Linked DNA regions of Homo sapiens: region 2 is linked to region 1. The links come from fine-mapping of genetic effects on gene expression. Tissue or cell type: stomach. Region 1 holds a variant in brackets; the other region holds the start of a gene. All regions are shown on one strand. Distances are from middle to middle.

The links. PIP is the estimated chance that this variant, and not a neighbour inherited with it, causes the effect. A credible set is the group of variants that fine-mapping cannot tell apart.
Region 2: it holds the start of TRMT9B, and the variant in region 1 is the best candidate, but not a certain one, in a credible set for the expression of TRMT9B in stomach (GTEx, PIP 0.87).

What each region holds. Positions count from the first base shown.
Region 1 is chr8:12,900,498-12,903,187 of GRCh38, forward strand. No RefSeq gene overlaps it. Among named protein-coding and RNA genes, the nearest start is that of TRMT9B, 44 kb to the right of the region's middle. RefSeq lists an enhancer at 230-731. The variant C/T (reference allele first, on the strand shown) is at 1,219.
Region 2 is chr8:12,944,416-12,947,105 of GRCh38, forward strand. TRMT9B (tRNA methyltransferase 9B (putative)) reads left to right here and starts at 1,258. Exons shown (of 5, transcript NM_020844.3): 1 at 1,258-1,551.

The sequences.
Region 1 (2,690 bases):
CGCTGAAGCTATTGGATTAAATATGAATCACAAGAAAGAAATTATGAACTTGGGATAAAGCAGGCTCTTTTCAGAAATCCAACACAGTGAGTAGGATTCAAAATCTTCCTTACTTCTTTTTGAAGCAAGCCATAAGTCTCACTTAACCTTTCATGGATTTCACGTGAACAAGAAATAGACTTCTGTTAAGTAACCAGGATTTGGGGGTTATGTGTTGCAGCAGTTATCCCTCCATAATTAATAGAGAAATTTGTGCCTATAAGTGGAGTGCTGCTTTAACAAAAACCTAAAAGCTTGTCTTAGAGTTCAGGCAGTGGGAGGTGAGGACATTGCCATATGAGGATGGAGACCAACAAACTGGAGATCTGTGCTGTGCAGGGCAGAACATTTAATCACTACCTGTGATAACCCAGAAGGCAGCCTGCTAGCCCGCTGAGGCAAAGAGGTTGGAAAATAAGAATGTTAGTGGTGAGCGTTGGTCATTACAGGCTGTGATTAGCATAACAGTAGAGGAAAGAGGTAAATTGGCCAATTTTAAAGCAGAAATAAGAGGGAATACAATTGTGGGTTCCACGTCAGAGGATTCAACCAATGATAGATCAGAAATATTCTTTAAAACCCTCCAAAATAAAAAATAACAGTGTAACAATAAAAAGGGATACAAATAAAAAATGATACAGTATAACAACTACTTACATGGCATTTACATTGTATTAGGTATTATAGGTAATATAGGGATGATATAGAGATTATTTAAAGTATAAAGGAGGATAGGCATAGGTTATATGAAAATACTATACCATTTTATATCAGGGACTTGAGCAACTGAGAATTTTAGTATCCTAGGGGGTCCTGGAACTAATCCCCTCACAGATGGACGACTATAGTCTAGAAATGTAGAGCCTTGCAGAGTTGGAAAAGTTGACTATTTCTAGACCACAAACAGTAACAAGTAAAACTCGAAGGAAAGATTTTGAATGACAAAGGCTCAGTAATTCCAAGTCTCAACCAGCCTTTATATTAGTATTAACATAGAAAATATAGAGAGGTGAATTTCCAAGTAAAAAGTTGTTATTTAGGCATAATATATAAGAAGAAGGATTGAAATCCAGGACATAAATATGGATGGTGGTGGCTTCTAGTATGTCCAGAGAACAAAAGATAAGGTTAAGTTTTTCTTGGGGAAATAGGAGGTGTGTAAATTGTTTGGAAAGAAAG[C/T]TTATTGGCATTGGCAAAGTCTTACAAGGGCTGGCGAGTTTTGATTGGCAAATGTTGGAAGTTGCTGGTAGGACCCGTTATCTTATTTAGTTATGGCCTGATAGTCAAATAAATTAGGAATATGCCCTTGAAGTTTTGGATTGGGTTTGTGAGACAGTGTGCCAGGCAAATGTTCTTGTATATGTGCCTAGCTGTGCTCATGTGACTCATGTAGTAAGCTGTGGTTTAGAAAAATTTCCTGTGGCCAGGCCTGGTGGCTCACGCCTGTAATCCCAGCATTTTGGAAGGCCAAGGCGGGCGGATCACTTTAGGTCAGGAGTTCAAGACTAGCTGGGCCAACATGGTGAAAACTCACCTCTACTGAAAATACAAAAATTAGCAGGGTGTGATGGTGCACGCCTGTAATCCCAGCTACTCAGGAGGCTGAGGCACACGAATCGCTTGAACCCAGGAGGCAGAGGCTGCAGTAAGCTGAGATTGTGCCACTGCTTTCCAGCCTGGATAACAGAGCCAGACTCTGTCTTAAAAAAAAAAAAAAAAAAAAAAAAAAAAAAAAAGGTCAGGCGTAGTGGCTCACGCCTGTAATCCCAGCACTTTGGGAGGCTGAGGCAGGTGGATCACGAGGTCAGGAGATCAAGACCATCCTGGCTAACATGGTGAAACCCCGTCTCTACTAAAAAATACGAAAAATTAGCCGGGCGTGGTGGCAGCCGCCTGTAGTCCCAGCTACTTGGGAGGCTGAGGCAGGATAATGGCGTGAACCCGGGAGGCGGAGCTTGCAATGAGCCGAGATCGTGCCACTGCACTCCAGCCTGGGAGACAGAGCGAGACTCTGTCCCCAAAAAAAAAAAAAAAAACCTCCAGCCTGGGGCACAGAGTGAGACTCCATCTTAAAAAAAAAAAAAAAAAAAAGAAAAAAGAAAAAACAAACAAACAAAAACAACAGAAAAACTTCCTGTGATAGTTTCTGTTATCAGGCAAATCATGCATGAGAGTCCTCTCTTGATGGCCTTCTGTAGCTCCAGTTTGAATCTTACAACTTCTGCATTAGAAAAAATAAACTTTTCTTTTGCTAGGCTACCAAGGTTCTCAAGTTTTCTTCTATCAGTAGTTAATGGACCCTTAACTGGTACACATTTATCATATTTAATCTATGGAGCACCCATGCTTCTCAACCAGGAGATGTGTGTCTATAGATATGTTTGAGCGATTCATAGGTAAGCTCTATAAGAATTGTATCTTAGCTGAATACAATCATTTGAATTTTAGTAGTGTTCTTGCTGTTGTGAGTCTTTGTATTAGTAACACTCAGTGGTTAATACTGGAATTGTTTTGATCCCTGATTTTAATATCCAAAATCTTCTGTTCTCTCAATTGCTAAACCTGCTTGCTTTCTCACCAATGACTAAAAAAGTTTAGCTGCTTAGCAATTTAGTATATTCTGTTTTGGTTTAGAAAAAGAAAGAAAAGAC
Region 2 (2,690 bases), 44 kb after region 1:
TCATGCCTGTAATCCCAGCGCTTTGGGGGGCCAAAGTGGGTGGATCACCTGAGGTCAGGAGTTTGAAACCAGCCTGACCAACATGGTGAAACCCTGTCTCTACTAAAAATACAAAAAAATTAACCAGGCCTGGTGGCACGCGCCTGTAATTCCAGCTACTTGGGAGGCTGAGGAAGGAGAATCACTCGAACCTGGGAGTCAGAGATTACAGTGAGCTGAGATTGCACCACTGCACTCCAGCCTGAGGGACAGAGCAAGTCTGCCTCTCTCAAAAAAAAAAGTATATATATATATATATATATATATATGAAAATAAAATTCCATCACCTAGAGAAAATCACTAGTCACATTTTTGTATGGTTGTCCAGCATTTTCCCCTACATATATGTAAATATACTATATAATGTTAAAATATTGGGGTGAAACTGCTTTTTATTTAACACTGCATTGTATCTCCAGGTCATTAAATTGTCTTCAGGATCATGGCTCTGCATTTTTTAACATGTAGTTGCTCCCTTATTTATATAACACATTCTCTGTTGGTGAAATTTATTGTATTTTTTTGCAGTTTTTCTTTTCCTACCATGACAAATAAGCTCATCTTTTCCAGTCCTTGTTCATTCAAAGCTGGAAACAAACAACACACACACCCAAATCAGACCTGAGATTCTATGCACAAAAGTGCTTCTTGAAACAAATTATCTAATAGTATTGTAAAAAGAAAAAAAAAGAGATAAAATAAGCCAAGTGATATGTGTCACTCAGTGTTCCAGCGAAAAGCTGACTCCAAAAATTACGTGATCATAATAGCAGAATGATGAAAGAGTGACAGACAAAAGGTAAGAGCATGAGGATGAAGAGGTAATACTCAAACAGCTTTGGAAATGGAGAGGAAGCTGGCGAATGACACAAAGGACAGCTGGAGGATGAACCAGTTTCCCAAGGGGCAAAAGAAACAATGTTGTTTGACATCTTCAGCAAACATTCCAAACTGTAGGGAAGAGGGATGATGGGTTTGTGTTGGTGATAACAGCAAAGTATTAAAGCATGCCTAAAAACTTTCACCATAAAGCAACAATTATTCTTGGTAATGCTACCAGGATAACAAGTTTCTACATGTTGTCATGCTGGCAAAGAAAATAGGGTGTATTTAGAGATTAGATGCCCCATGGACATGTGGTCATGGAAACAAAAGCAAACAGCTAACGTGGCTATGTGTTGAGGTCAGTATTTGAGGGAACATCCGGTGTGTGTTTTATTCAGTATTGTGTAGTACAGAAAAGATCACACATGTATATGTCAGAAGTAGATGCACATGTTCTTTTGGCTTTTTTTCTTTGTTTTATTCTTTTTTCATTTTTTGTGTTTTTTGTTAGTTTGTTTTGAATTTTTTTTCTTGATGCATATGTTCCTTCAACTTATTCAGTACTTCCATGTGCAGGGCTCTGGACTAGACTTTCAGGATCTAAGGCTGAATCCTACACAGTCCTCCCTCTGGGAAAGTGATGAAACCTGTGAGCTCTCCTAGCAACTCTGCAGTCTTCCTTCAAGGTATGTGTTGCAATTTGGGGTTGCACATTTTAGTTGTGATATTTGTGATTAGTTGATTAATGTTTGTCATCCCACGAGACTATAAGTGCCATGAGGGTAGATATCTTATCTGTTTTGCTCCCCATTGCTTTTCTCACAGACTGCTCAGCAATGAATCTTTGTTGAATAAAATAATACTTTATACAAAGGTTAGTGATAAATGTAAGAAGCATCTAGATCAAGAACTGATACATTCTTAGGACAGAAAGATTAATCTAGACAATAGCTTTTTGTCTGGAATTATCTTTTATGGAAGAGACGGCCTTGGCAATCAGAAGAGCAGATTAAGCAATTAGTGTAATCATCTAGGTGGGAAGTAATGGGACATAAAGAACTAGAATAGAAACAATAAGAAGGGAGCAGAGTTGATAAATAAAAGCAGTACAGATACAAAATTGTCAGACGGTGGTCACCCATGGGCTATGAAGGGCAAGAAGAAGCAGAGTCTAAGAATGTGCCAGGTGACTGGGAGGACGGAGATTGTAGAAGAAAGAAAAGGGCAGCTGCTTTAGGTGCACGGAGGGCGAAGGACCTCAGGTTCGAATGTGTTGATGTCACCCTGGTGGAGATGTCAAGCAAGATGAGAGCATGGGATCTGCAGGTTTATGAGAAGACCAATTCAGAGAAACAGAATTTTGAGAAATCTACACAGCGTTTTTCCTTGCAGTTAGAAAGGTGGATGAGGTTGTCTAGGGAGATTATATAGAGAGAAAAGCAGAGGACCAAGGACAGGTGCTTGAGAAATGATGAGACTTGGCAGGACTACTTTTTTAAAAGTTCAGGAAGAAAGAGAAGAAGTGGCATTTCTCTTTTTGGTGCATAAAACCCTATAAGAGAAGAAACCATCCTATTCCCAATGCCAGGAAGTTCCCTATGTACCTTGAGAAGGTCTTCCAGGTTTCAGAGGTGTGGAAGATATCAGTTCCTTGGATAAAGGCAGCAGCTACACACTTTCTAGCAGCAAAATGGCTGAAGAACTGAAGGGTTTAGGATTTAGGAGATGGCTACTGGGACTCCAGCCCGTGAACATCCCAAAATGACAAAGACAGCTCTTGGTTAGCATGTCTGTCTCTAAATTGTGCTGACTAATAAACAGCTGT